Linked DNA regions of Homo sapiens. The protein of the gene in region 2 purifies or fractionates together with the protein of the main gene of each other region. This does not show direct contact. Each region holds a gene or a part of one and is shown on either strand. Other genes may lie near its edges.

Region 1 (3,500 bases), on a different chromosome or scaffold from region 2:
GGCATGATCCTAGCTCACTGCATCCTCAAACTCCTGAGCTCAAGCATTCCTCCCATCTTAGTCTTCCTGATAGCTAGGACTATGAGAACATACTACTGAGCTAATTAGCACCCGGGCTAAGTTTTAAATTTTTTGTGGGGATGGTGTCTTGCTCTGTTGCCCAGGCTACCCTCAAGGAATCCTCCTGCTTCAGCCTCCGAAATGCTGGGATTAAAGTCATGGGCCACCATACCCAGCCTACAGATAGCATTTCATTAAGTGGAGACCTCAGGCTTTATTCTGAGGGAGGGTATTTAGATTGCTCCTATTCCACCTTTATAAACAATGCTGTAATGAATGTCTAGCCTTTGTCAAAGAGCGGAAAAAATTCTCATCAATTTTTAACACTTCTAGGCTTTTCCCCAAATGGCCAGATTGATTTCCAGAAGGACTGGACTAATTTCCAGTGCCATAACTGGTAATGGGTGTGCATATAGTTTTGTCATGTCCTTGTCAGCACTGGGTATTATCCTTTTTTCAAAATTTTGGCTTACATAACAGTCATGAAACTATTGGGGTGGGCTGGGTGTGGTGGTTCACGCCTGTAATCCCAGCACTTTGGGAGGCAGAGGCGGGTGAATTGCCTGAGGTCAGGAGTTTGAAACCAGCCTGGCCAACATAGTGAAACCCTGTCTCTACCAAAAACTACAGAAATTAGCCGGGCGTGATGGCACACGCCTGTAATCCCAGCTACTTGGGAGGCTGAGGCATGAGAATTGCTTGAACCCGGGAGGCGGAGGTTGTAGTGACCTGAGATCGTGCCACTGCACTCCAGCCTGGGTGACAGAGCGAGACTCTATCTCAAAAAAAAAAACAAAAAAACTTATTGGGGTGCTTGGCTGGGTGTGGTGGCTCACATCTGTAATCCCAGCACTTTGGGAGGCTGAGGTGTGAGGATCACTTGAGGCCAGGAGTTCTAGACCAGCCTGGGCAGCATAGTGAGACCCCCATCTTTATAAAAAGAAAAAAATACATTAAAAGAAAAAAACGAACTATTCGTGCTTTAGCTGAAGCTCAGTAATGACAGTTCTGTCTCCTGTCCCGCGCTTCCTTGTTCCTGTCATATTCCCCGTCCATCTCACACTCATTCCCTCTTTACCCATAGCTGATCATCCTGGCCAATGGTGGGCCCCAGGCCCTCGTGCAGATCATGCGTAACTACAGTTATGAAAAGCTGCTCTGGACCACCAGTCGTGTGCTCAAGGTGCTATCCGTGTGTCCCAGCAATAAGCCTGCCATTGTGGAGGCTGGTGAGTATGATGGCCTTGAGGGCGGCTGGGGTGGGAGCTCTGCCCAGCTGCCAGGCTCAGTCAGCCATGCTCCCCGTGGCTGATGGCACCCCTATCCCTGCCCCAGGTGGGATGCAGGCCCTGGGCAAGCACCTGACCAGCAACAGCCCCCGCCTGGTGCAGAACTGCCTGTGGACCCTGCGCAACCTCTCAGATGTGGCCACCAAGCAGGTGAGGGAGGTATCTGGGCCTGGGGTTGACCTCTTCAGCTGCCCCATCCAGCCTCCTGTCTGGGCATCTGACCTGAGGTACTGTGGGAGGACTGGGGGCTCTAAATCTCTCTTCCTTGTGACTGAGGCTGGAAATGCCTTGAAAACCCTCATCTCTTTTTTTTTTTTTTTTTTTTTTTCTGACGGAGTCTCACTCTGTCACCTAGGCTGGAGTGCAGTGGTGCAATCTCGGCTCACTGCAAGCTCCGCCTCCTGGGCTCAAGTGATTCTCCTGCCTCAGCCTCCCGAGTAGTTGGGACTACAGGCACCTGCCATCATGTCTGGCTAATTTTTGTATTTTTATTAGAGACAGGGTTTCACCATGTTGGGCAGGCTGGTCTTGAACTCCTGACCTCAGGTGATCCACCCGCCTTGGCCTCCCAAAGTGCTGGGATTACAGGCGTGAGCCACCACATCCAGCAAAAGAACAGTTTTGACCTGGGCCCTGGGCTGGAGCAATAGTGTACCAAGAGACAGGCCCCCATGACTAAAAATACAATTTAAGGAAAAATGCAGCTCCAGGGCAAGTGCCCTGTGCCTCCTTCCAACAACCATTCCCCAGGCCTCCCCTAGCAATATGCTGTTTATCAAGTGCTCACCCTGTGCTGGCCCTCTGCGTGGCATTTGTGGACAGTAGCTCATTCAACCTGGGGTTAGAGTGTGGGACCCTGTGGGTTAGATGAAGACACTGAGGCTCGGGGAGCTAATGGCCATGGTCACAGGTAGTAAATGGCAGAACTGGGATTTGAACCCAGGACTGTCCGTCCCCAAAGCTGGGGTTTTTCTGTTCCACCACAAGGCCCACGTGTCTCCCTGGGAGAAGTGAGATAGACGTCTGAGGTAGTGATTTTACTGGAAATGGATTTGGCTCAGGGCCCCAGGGTGGTGGGGCAGCAGTGAAGGCCCAGAAAGGTGACAAGCGAGTAGACATGGCTCAGCTGGGCCACTGAATCATGCGGCCCCCTCAACAATTGCCTCCTGGTCTCGAGGCCTCCCTTGGCCACCGTACTTTGGCCTGAGGAGGGTTCTGCCTGGGTCTGAGGGCCCCAGGGAAAGGCTGATGAGTTGGAGGGAAGAGATGTGGGGCTTAGAGCCAAGCCTGGGTTCAGATCCAGCCACTAGCTGTGTGTCTGTGGGCAAGTTCCCCAACCTCTCTGAGCCTCATTGCCTCACTTGCACCACAGGATAGTAACGCCCTCTCACAGGGTGTGGCGGGTCATAGGGATGAAAGTTCCCGGGCACACACAGGCAGGGCTGACCCCTTTAGGTCATCCCACTCCCCTTGGACATATTCGAGAAGGCTCCCTGGAGTTGGCTGCTCCCTGACTCCCCCGTCCCTTCCTTGCCCTCCAGGAGGGCCTGGAGAGTGTGCTGAAGATTCTGGTGAATCAGCTGAGTGTGGATGACGTCAACGTCCTCACCTGTGCCACGGGCACACTCTCCAACCTGACATGCAACAACAGCAAGAACAAGACGCTGGTGACACAGAACAGCGGTGTGGAGGCTCTCATCCATGCCATCCTGCGTGCTGGTGACAAGGACGACATCACGGAGCCTGCCGTCTGCGCTCTGCGCCACCTCACTAGCCGCCACCCTGAGGCCGAGATGGCCCAGAACTCTGTGCGTCTCAACTATGGCATCCCAGCCATCGTGAAGCTGCTCAACCAGCCCAACCAGTGGCCACTGGTCAAGGTACTGCTGTTAGGCGAGGGGAAGGAGCTCCCTGCAGCAGGCTTAGGTGCTGTATTGGTATAGGCAAAGCCGCTGTAGCAAAGAAGCCCTAAATACAGTGGCTCGAATAAGACAGAAGTTTATTTCTCTCTCGTGTAATAGTTTAGACCTCAACAATGGCTCTGCTCTAAAATTCCAGAATTGGGATTTCTATCTTGTAGCTCTACCAGCCCCTAGGGCAGAGCTCAGAGTTCAAAATGCACATGAGTACCCTGGGTGGTTTCATTAAATT
Region 2 (3,500 bases):
ATAATGAAGGTAAAATAGTTGCAAACCTTTGTTAACTGAATAGAAAAATTTAAATACATAAAGTCAAAACTTAGATATTCTAGGAAGAAGTGGACACAAATACAATTGTATCACATCACAGAACAAGCTAAAGCAAAACAAAAAAAACACCCTATGACTTATAAATGAAAATAAAGAAATCAAGTCAATCTCTTAAATAAACCCTTGGATCAAAGGAGAAACAAAAATTATAATTACAGGCTATTTAGAAAAGAATGGCAATGAAGAGTAGTCCCAAAACTTAGGATATGAGGCCAAAATGGAAGAACATATTTTGTCCTTAATAAGAAGACTTAATACCCTTGAAACATTAGCTATACCAAAATTAATATATAAACACTAGAATTCTAATGTTTAAAAAACCTGGATACAAAATTTTAAATTTCACAAAAGAAAAAATGAGAGTTGACAAAAAATTATATCAAATAAAAAAGCAACATGGGAAGGACTTTTATGTATATCTAAGATCTAGTGTAAAGCTATATGGTTTGGATCTGTGTCCCCACCGAATCTCATGTTGAAATGTAATCCCCAGTGTTGGAGGTGGGCCCTGGTGGGAGGTGGATAGACCATGGGACAGAGTTCTCATGAATGGGTTAGCTCCATCCCCTAGGTTCTGTTCTCAAGCTAGTGAGTTATCATGAGACCAGGTTGTTGAAAAGTGTGTAACAACTCCCTTCCCACTCCTGTTCTGGCCGTGTAAGACGTGCCTGCTTCCCCAGGACTGTAAGTTTTCTGAGGCCTCCCCAGAAGGAGAAGCCACTATACTTCCTGTTAAACCTCTTTTCTTTATAAATTACCCAGTCTTAACTATTTCTTTATAGGAGAATGGACTTATACAAGCTAGTAGAATAAAACAGAATAGCTTTGCTATAGAATGATGGATAGGACAGAGAATTAGAAGTAGATACAGGTATATACAGAAAACTTAGTATATAATGAAGGTGGGAAAACGATGACTTATTATTATAATATTTAGTAAATGGTGCTGGCAAAATCAGCTATGCATCTACAATAAAATAAGATTGAATTGAATTTATACTTACTATTGCATATTATATGGCTCTAAAAAGTATCTGTTGGAACTATATCATTTTTTTCTAAAGATTGTAAAAGAGAAATTTAGTTAAGATAGAAGAGCAAATATCGATGAAACCAGCATGGCATGATCCAAAAAAATTTTAAAACAATCAAACATCAAAAGCAAACAGACAACAACAAACCCACCATAAATGCATCCACATGTTTGTGTGGTCACGAAAAGAAAGGAGCAATAGGACCAGGTTAGGCCACGAACATGAGTTATCTGAGAGTGGGGGTTATCAGTGTTTTCTTGGTAGATCTCTGTGTTGTTTCACTGTATAAAATGAACACTTCTTACTTTTGTGGTTTGGGGAAGATAGATTCAAGAATACAGTTTTAGTGAAGGGGCCTCTGGTGTGTCGTCTGATTGGTTGCTTTCTTGACTGTCAGATCTTACCACATAGGACTGGTGAGAGCTGTGGTGCAGAGAATAAGCCTTCAAGGCCGGACAGAGGACAAGTAGCTCTGGATGCCCAGGACCATGCTAGGTGGGGGAGTCCAGGCAGGTCAAGATGCCAGGCTGCCAAGTGCAAGAGCTTGGGCTTCTGGTCTTGCCTCTGTCACTTTCCCTGTAAGTGCTAGGAGAAGCCAGTTCCCCTCTCTGAGTCCTGGCCTCAGACCAGCAGGCATAGGAACATCCAGGCCGGATTGTCCTTATCATTCTCATCGACACACGCCCCCTTACCCAATGCTATGCCTAGCCGCATCAGGGTCCATGGCCAGCACTGTGCCAATCAGAGGCTTCTTCTGGTTTTCCTTCAGCTGGAAGTGGTAGAAAGGCTGCTGGAAAATGGGGGGCTCGTCCACATCTGTGATGTTGATAATGACCTGGGCTCTGTTTCCCGCGGGAGGGCTCATGTATCGGAGGTCGATGGTGGGGTCTGTGGCCTCGACGATGAAGCTGTATTGCTGGATGTATTCATAATCCAGAGGCTGCGTAAGGAAAAAGGATGGTGAGTGCCTGCTCTGGGCCAAGCATGTGTGTGGCACATGATCTGCACAGCAACTATGCAAGGTAGTACCAGGATGACACCCATTTTATAGATGAGGGGCCCATGGCCTCGACAAGTGATATTTCTGAGGTCATCAAGACAGCGGCTGGGCCTGGTGTCTGTCTTCAGCTGCTCCCCATTTCATCTCAGCAGCCTCATGGCCACACCCACAACCCTGGCTGTGTGCCTGGCCCTATTTCCAGCGTTTGGGACATAGAATGGATCAACTATGGTCCTGCTCTTAAGAGCGTCACTAGTGGTTCTACCCACAGGTCCTTAAGGACAGGCTTTTTCTTTGTTCTTGAGACAGAATATTGCTCTTGGTACCCAGATTGGAGTGCAATGGCACGACCTCCGCTCACTACAACTTCCACCTCCCAGGTTCAAGCGATTCTCCTGCCTCAGCCTTCCAAGTAGCTGGGATTACAGGCACCTGCCACCACGCCCAGCTAATTTTGGTATTTTTAGTAGAGACGGGGTTTCACCATATTGGCCAGGCTGGTCTCAAACTCCTGACCTCAGGTGATCCACCTGCCTCGGCCTCACAAAGTGCTGGGATTAGAGGCGTGAACCACCGGGCCCGGCCGGACATGCTTTTTCTTTATGCCTTTGCTCAAGATCCTTCTCCTGCCCTTGCCTGCCTAGAAAACTCCTACTCATCCCTCAGGAAGCCAAGCAGAAGGTAATCAGATGCTCTCTCAGAAACCCCTCCTAGCAGAGGTAATTGCTCCCTGTTCAGAGCTGCTGTGTATCACTTACACCTGGCTGTACTTTTTTTGTTCATGCATATGTCTTCCCCATTCGCTGAGACCTTTGCTGACACTGGAGGCTGTGTCTGCCTCTCCTTGGTGTTTCCAAGCCCCAGCATGGGGCTGGTTCAGAGAAGGACTCAGGCCCAGGACTTGCAATCCTCTGCATGGCCATTCCAGAGGCATTTTTTATGCCCCTCACAGGACCTCTCCCTCCTCTTCCAGATTCAGTTAATCTGGCTTCTCTGGCTGTCAGCAGCATCCAGTGTCAGTGGCCATCCATGTCACCACAATTACTCACTGTTTTCTTCATGCTGATGGATTTCTACTGGCCAGGACACATGGCAGGCCAGAAAGTGCCAGAGAGGTAATAACTCCAGGGGCAGCCCCCAGTCAACACCACGGACAGCGGGTGTATAAATACCCCAGCTCCTTCACCCTCAGCTTCTCCAACTCTGGGATGTGTTCCACACTTACCCCGCAGTGGGTCATTGCTCCTGGGGCTTCCTGGGATCACCTCCCAGATAAACAATTTACACCCAGTCATGGCCTTAAGATTTGCTTCCCAAGTAACTCGGCCTAAGACACTGGATCACAGTCTCCATGAACACATGACCACCTTGGAGCTTTGATGGTC
Region 3 (3,500 bases), on a different chromosome or scaffold from region 2:
ACGGACCCCCTGGGTGAGCCTGCAGACTCTCTGGCCCTGTCGCCCCCTCTCCCCCAGGTCTTTGGGATGGATGGGCTTTCCCTGCCTCCCTCTCCCTTTTCTCGGGGGTTCTGGGTGCCCGTGGGAAACGGGCCTTTGTCTGCTCCTTCCCCACCCACTTGGGATTCCCCATAACTGTGGTACCCTGAGATTCTGGGACCCCCCCCCCCTTACCTTCCTTGCTTCTGACTCTGCCTGGCCTGTCCTAAGTTGGGGAGCAGGTGGTGGTCCGCTCCTTCCCGGTGGCTGCGCTGACCAAGGAGAAGCGCATCAGCGTCCAGACCCCTGTGGACCAGCTCCTGCAGGACGGGCTCCAGCTGCGCTCCTGCACATTCCAGGTGGGGCGCGGTGCGCGGGTGGGGCTCTCATCCCCCGCCCTGGTCTTTCTCCTGCAAACCGGTCTTTCTTGTATGAACCATTTTTAGGCCAGTCTCCAGCAGTGGCCCTGTTGTTACGCTTGCATGTCTGGGGCCCTCACTGTGGCTCTTGAGTTGATGTCCACTGTTTGATGTGCGGTCTTTGGGTCCTTGTCCTTTCCTTGGGGCGCCGGCCCTCAAGTCCGTGTCTTGGGTGTGCCTTGCAAACCCAGGCCTCAGCTCACAGCCACTGAGATTTCGAGTTTACACAAGCGCTTGCCTTCGTGTGACACAGATACAGGCCTTTGCCTGGGGCCTGCTTCTCTCTCTGTCATGGCTGCGAGGGGAAGGGGAGCCTGGCAGTGTCAGAGTTGGGGGAGGGGCTGGGGGGCCACCCACACCCCTAAGGGCTGCTTTTACTGACACAGCTGCTGAAAATGGCCTTTGACGAGGAGGTGGGGTCTGACAGCGCCGAGCTCTTCCGTAAGCAGCTGCATAAGCTGCGGTACCCGCCGGACATCAGGGCCACCTTTGCGTTCACCTTGGGCTCTGCCCACACACCTGGCCGGCCACCGCGAGTCACCAAGGACAAGGGTCCTTCCCTCAGGTATGGATCTGGGTCCCAGGCAGGGCAGCTGGGCCTCAGCCGTGTTCCCGCTCCAACCCTCCTAGGCCCCTGTGCTCATCTTTGTCCCTCCTCCTCTCACCTTTGCTGACTCTCGTGGGCCTCAGAACCCTGTCCCGGAACCTGGTCAAGAACGCCAAGAAGACCATCGGGCGGCAGCATGTCACTCGCAAGAAGTACAACCCCCCCAGCTGGGAGCACCGGGGCCAGCCGCCCCCTGAGGACCAGGAGGACGAGATCTCAGGTGGAGGGGTGGGGGTGGAGTCCTGGGTGGTCTCTGGATGCTGACATTGGCCAGGGAGGATCAGGGCAGGCGGAGTGGCCCCGTGATGACCACGTGTGCCCGGCCTGTGCAGTGTCGGAGGAGCTGGAGCCCAGCACGCTGACCCCGTCCTCAGCCCTGAAGCCCTCCGACCGCATGACCATGAGCAGCCTGGTGGAAAGGGCTTGCTGTCGCGACTACCAGCGCCTCGGTCTGGGCACCCTGAGCAGCAGCCTGAGCCGGGCCAAGTCTGAGCCCTTCCGCATTTCTCCGGTCAACCGCATGTATGCCATCTGCCGCAGGTGAGGGCCGGCCAGGGCTGGCCCGGGTGGTGGACACGTGACTGGGTGTCTTCCCTGCCCGCTGTGGGCCTGGGCCACGGCTTCTGGTCATGTAAGGAATGTGGAGGGGGAGACTCCGGGCAGAGGGACGGGCCACAGGGCTGGGGGGTGGCTGGGGGGCCCCGTGGCTGAGCTGGAAGCGCCTCCTGCTGGGAGCCATGGGCTGGCTCCTCTTGCCCTGCTTGGGGCGTGAGCCTGGAGGCGGGTGGGGTCGCCAGCCACCTTCACGCCTCTGCCTCCTCTCAGCTACCCAGGGCTGCTGATCGTGCCCCAGAGTGTCCAGGACAACGCCCTGCAGCGCGTGTCCCGCTGCTACCGCCAGAACCGCTTCCCCGTGGTCTGCTGGCGCAGCGGGCGGTCCAAGGCGGTGCTGCTGCGCTCTGGAGGCCTGCATGGCAAAGGTGTCGTCGGCCTCTTCAAGGCCCAGAACGCACCTTCTCCAGGTACCTCCTGCGTCCTGCCCTGTGCCTGCCCTGCCCTATCTCACCCTCCCCTCCCTCAGCTCCGTGTCCTCCCCCAGGCCAGTCCCAGGCGGACTCGAGTAGCCTGGAGCAGGAGAAGTACCTGCAGGCTGTGGTCAGCTCCATGCCCCGCTACGCCGACGCGTCGGGACGCAACACGCTTAGCGGCTTCTCCTCAGCCCACATGGGCAGTCACGGTGAGGGTGCTTGTGGGCAGACGGTGGGGCAGGGGCACTTTGGGGGGCCGTGGTGGCATTTATGGTTTGGCAGGCAGGCCAGGGAGGAGCAGAAACGGCGCTGGTCATGGATGTTTGGGTGTGGGATGAGGAGCATGCCCTCCGGGTGCCGTGGGGCAGGGGCGGGAAGCCTGTCCAGACCAAGTGTGTGCCCAGACCAGGTGTGTGCCCTGACCTCCTGCCCGCCCTGACGTCCTGCCCGCTCTCCACCTCTGCGTCTGCTGCAGCTTCCTGTAGGGTCCTCCGGGTGCTGCCTCTACGCGGCTCTGTCTTACCATTTCCCACAGCCTGGAAACATCCCAGATGCTCCTCTGTCCTGTTCCCTCCCAGTGTCACTGTTTTTCCTCATCCCCCACACTCCACCCTCCCTGCATCCCCCAATCCAGACTGTCTTTGGAGCCTCTGGCCTGGCTCTGCCTGCAGCTTGGCCTCTGTCCTCGTGTGTCCTGGTTCCTTGGGCCTTGCCCGAGCTGGCCTTGCTGTCTCTGTCCCCACCGCCACGCACACTTCACAGGCGCCCTGCACACACTGAGCTAGACTGGCCCCAGGACGGGGTGGCAGATAGGCCCCACACTCACTCCTGTGTCCGGACCACCTGTTCTCTAGTTCAGAAGTGGTTTTGTTTTTCCAGATACCACATTATATACTTACATTTTACAATCGCCCTGTCTTGCTGCCTTCCCACCCCTGCCAGAAACCCTGAGTGGCATTTGCAGGTGGGGCCGCCCCTGCACCCCCCATGCCTGTGCTTCCCACAGAGTCCCTTTTGCGTCTCCGACCATCCCCAGTGCCAGTGGCTGCTGCCTCCCCGTGTCCCCCTCAGTGCCCAGCAATGCTCAGGGGCTCAAGCTTCACTCAGCTGTAGTCGTGGCTTCTAGTCCCAGCCCTGACCTTTTTTTTTTTTTTTTTTTGAGTCGGAGTCTTTCTCTGTCACCCACGCTGGAGTGCGGTGGTGCGATCTCGGCTCACTGCAAGCTCCACCTCCCAGGTTCACGCCATTCTCCTGCCTCAGCCTCCCGAGTAGCTGGGACTACAGGTGCCCGCCACCGCGCCCGGCTGATTTTTTTGTATTGTATTTTTAGTAGAGACAGGGTTTTACCGTGTTAGCCAGGATGATCTCGATCTCCTGACCTGGTGATCCGCCCGCCTCGGCCTCCCAAAGTGCTGGGATTACAGGCGT
Region 4 (3,500 bases), on a different chromosome or scaffold from region 2:
CGATGAACTTTTTGCAGTGGAGTCCATGTTAGATTGGAAGAGCCCCAGCGTCTGTCCATGTCCAGGCCTGGAATGCGGGTCCTCTGAGTGCCCTGGCTCCCCAGGGCCTGGCCCTGCCTTTAGACCCCTCACTCTCAAACACCTTCTCAGTACCTTGCTCCCAACTGTGGTCCGGAAATGCTTGCTGTTTGGCTTGATGACTTGCTTTGCAGATTTAACTGTAATCATTGAACCAAAAGGAGAAGGAGGAGTTGGATTTTCTTGAAAAAAGTTGGCACAGAGATGAAACTGGAAGGAACAGAGAGGATCTCAATGTCCAAAAGCAACTGCCCACAGTACTCACTCATACAAGCCACGTAAATGGTGACAACAACTCAGCTAAACTAGTGGGCGGTGAACAACCTCACCAACATCTACAGCCAAATCTCAATTCCACAAGACGATCGTCTTTCATAGGGATGGCCCGTGACTTCTTTCCCGAGAAGGGGAACAGAGAAGAAAAGTGTGTAAATGTCTGTATGTGGGTATCACTCTAAGTGTCAGAAAGTGGAAACATCTACTATTCTCACCTCCGTGCCTGGCTCACACTGTGTCTCCACCTGCAATCTCCTCCCTCCTACTCCACATTCTCATCCCTGCAGATCCAAACCCTACCCAGGAATCTCTTAAAATGTTTTCCAGCCCCACCCACTTCGCAATGAATGAATTAATCCCAACTTCTCTGAACCGTCTTCATCTTGTATTTGTACCTCATTTAAAGCACTTACTACCTTCTGCTTTGTATCAGTTATTTCTTTAAATGTCTTATCTTCTCTCAGAGTGAATTTCATATTTTGTTTTGTTTTGTTTTGTTTTGAGACAGGGTCTTGCTCTGCTGCCCAGAAGAAGAGTGCAGTGGCGCAATCATGGCTCACTGCAGCCTCTATCTCCCAGGGCCAAGCAGTCTTCCCCACCTCAGCCTCCCAAGTAGCTGGGACTACAGGCATGTCACCATTCCCTGCTAATGTTTTTTTATATTTTTAGAAGAGACAGGGTCTTGCTTTTTTGGCCAGGCTGGTCTCAAACTTCTGGCCTCAAGCAATCCACCCGCCTCTGCCTCCCAAAATGCGGGGATTACAGGCGTGAGCCACCACGTCTGGCTGGAATTGTGATTCTTCAATGGTTCTATTAGCTGTCCTTCCTGTCATCTGCATGTTTGATTTCTGATTTTGCATATAGTAGAGATTTACAGTAGTTATCTTTTTGAATCTGTGAGCTACAACTTACCACTGTCCAGAGAGTTCACACACACACACACACACACTCTCTCTCTCTCTCTCCTTACTCTTTCCTTATATACATCTAGATCCATGTCAATTATATAATAACTTTAGTTACCCCTAGGACTTTACAGACCTTGCTTGCTCTCAGGATTTCAACCAGCATGTCATAGACGGTGTCTCTGTTTTTCTCCAGGAAACCTTCACATTTATACTCTACCTATACAGAGAAAGCAATTAATTATTCCCAAAGAGGCCAAAGAATATAGCCTCTAAGCACAAGTTTCATCTCTTTTTTAAGAAAGATTAATAAAAAAGGCTACAGAGGCAATCTTACAAAAAGACGTCTGGCTTCTGTGCATCATGGCAGCAGCCCCATTATGTATAAGCTGGGAATGTGTCTTCTCTCCCACCACCTGGGTTTCTCACCTGCCTGCTGATCACTCTGCACTCACCTGTTGGCTCCCTCTGGCCACAGGGGTCCAGTTGCTCCCTGCGGTATGTGCAGTTCCTACAAGAACACCTGACTTAGGTCTCCCTTTGCCTTTGAAGCCACCAGGAGGAGGAAAAAGCTTAGTGGTGTTCATTGGGTTCAAACAGACATCGTTTCCTAAATCAACATTAATGTGGTAGAAAGGATAGAAAAACCGACCAGCTGACCACCAAGCCTTCAAGAGCCACCAAGCCCTCAGAATCAGGTTTAGAGTGGGTCAACCTTTGCACTGCTTGAATCTAGCTTAGAAAAACTCTCCATGCTGCCCTTTCTGATGAAGAAGGCTTCTCGAATGCCTCAAACCATGGCATATCCAGGGTGGCTGCTTCAACATTCAACCTCCCCCTAGTTTATGCCTCTGGATTGCATATCTTAATATGTGATAATTTATTTTTCATAAATTAAAAACGTATATTAAAATTAATTTTAAAAATTGACAATGAGGAAACAGGGGAGAGTGCTGGAATCCGTAAGCAGAGGGTTCCCTGGGCATGGCCTCTGCTTTGTCCCCCAGGTAAGGAAGTATCCTTGCCGGTAGGTAGGTTAAGATCCAGGAACACCGGCTGTTTGCAAACACTTCTTTGTGAATGAAGTACCTGGATTGTTGTACAAATTCTTCCAGAATGGTGGTGTGAGCCACTAGGACAGATAGACAAAGGTGGCAAATACAGAGCTTTCCTGGTCTGGGCGAGCATCTGTGGGGACAGTGTCACATGCAGCTGGTGCCTCTGTTGGGGACTCTGGGACCAAAGGAAGATGTGCTGAGCTGCTACATCTAAGCTCAGCTGACTTGCATTCAATACGACCTGATTTCCCTGGCCAATGAGATTGAAAACCTAATCTAACCCCATAGTGCATGTGGGTTCTTCCCACCAATCAATCCATAGTCCAGCCCAAACGCTGCCTAGTTCTTTTAAGGGAGACTTCTTGGAAGTGGCAGGTGAGAGAATTACATGTCCAGAAACTACATCCTATAAAGAGAGACCCTTGAAAGAAATCCCATATGTGCTTTTTATGGAGTCTGGTCTTTCCCCCTCCCTTTTCCTATGGGACCAGAACCCTGAAATTATGACAATAGCTAGGAAATATAATTTGACATATGATCATTTCATTTCATAGGCATCTTTTCAGGAGCCCATCTGAAAAAGTCTAAGCACTAAAAACTTATCTTTTTTTTTTCTTTTTCTTTTTCTTTTTTTTTTTTGAGACAGGGTCTCACTCTGTCAGCCAGGCTGGAGTGCAGTGGCGTGATCTTGGCTCAATGCAACCTCCGCCTCCCAGGTTCCAGCAATTTTCCTGCCTCAGCCACCTGAGTAGCTGGGATTACAGGTGCGTGCCACCACGCCTGGCTTATTTTTGTATTTTTTAGTAAAGATGGGGTTTCGCCATGTTGGCCAGGCTGGTCTCAAACTCCTGGTCTCAAGCGATCCACCCGCCTCAGCCTCCCAAAGTGCTGGGATTACAGGTGTGAGCCACTGCACCCGGCCAATCCTATATTTTAATATTTTACAGTACTCTGCTAGCACACAAAGGTGATCACAGCTTTCCAGGTTGCTGTCCCCTCCCTCCACCATCAGTCACTCGGGAATGACCAGCTCTGACTCACAGCACCGGCCTCTGCGATAAACATAGACAAGCACAAGCCATTCCTGTGAGCCCTGGCACTGGGCTAGGCCACCAAGGCAACACCCAACCAGGACATGGGAGGAGGTAGGAGCTCCCTTAAGGAAGGAAAACAAATAAGAATG

The links. Proteins that work in one complex are often made in the same cells at the same time.
Region 1: the proteins of CDH5 (region 2) and JUP purify together in Homo sapiens (affinity purification with western blotting; 3 studies listed by BioGRID and IntAct, with this or other methods). This does not show direct contact.
Region 3: the proteins of CDH5 (region 2) and SBF1 purify together in Homo sapiens (affinity purification with mass spectrometry; 2 studies listed by BioGRID and IntAct, with this or other methods). This does not show direct contact.
Region 4: the proteins of CDH5 (region 2) and MYO5C purify together in Homo sapiens (affinity purification with mass spectrometry; 2 studies listed by BioGRID and IntAct, with this or other methods). This does not show direct contact.

The regions. Positions count from the first base shown.
Region 1 is NC_000017.11:41,762,712-41,766,211, reverse strand, and holds part of JUP (junction plakoglobin), read left to right. Parts: intron 1-1,144; coding exon 1,145-1,289; intron 1,290-1,395; coding exon 1,396-1,499; intron 1,500-2,890; coding exon 2,891-3,229; intron 3,230-3,500. UniProt on the Homo sapiens protein: Common junctional plaque protein. The membrane-associated plaques are architectural elements in an important strategic position to influence the arrangement and function of both the cytoskeleton and the cells within the tissue.
Region 2 is NC_000016.10:66,390,691-66,394,190, reverse strand, and holds part of CDH5 (cadherin-5 preproprotein), read right to left. Parts: intron 2,056-3,500; coding exon 1,808-2,055; intron 1-1,807. UniProt on the Homo sapiens protein: Cadherins are calcium-dependent cell adhesion proteins. They preferentially interact with themselves in a homophilic manner in connecting cells; cadherins may thus contribute to the sorting of heterogeneous cell types.
Region 3 is NC_000022.11:50,458,036-50,461,535, reverse strand, and holds part of SBF1 (myotubularin-related protein 5), read left to right. Parts: coding exon 1-13; intron 14-249; coding exon 250-377; intron 378-823; coding exon 824-1,002; intron 1,003-1,127; coding exon 1,128-1,264; intron 1,265-1,376; coding exon 1,377-1,584; intron 1,585-1,869; coding exon 1,870-2,066; intron 2,067-2,143; coding exon 2,144-2,281; intron 2,282-3,500. UniProt on the Homo sapiens protein: Acts as an adapter for the phosphatase MTMR2 to regulate MTMR2 catalytic activity and subcellular location. Promotes the exchange of GDP to GTP, converting inactive GDP-bound Rab proteins into their active GTP-bound form.
Region 4 is NC_000015.10:52,247,305-52,250,804, forward strand, and holds part of MYO5C (unconventional myosin-Vc), read right to left. Parts: intron 1,480-3,500; coding exon 1,396-1,479; intron 289-1,395; coding exon 154-288; intron 1-153. UniProt on the Homo sapiens protein: May be involved in transferrin trafficking. Likely to power actin-based membrane trafficking in many physiologically crucial tissues.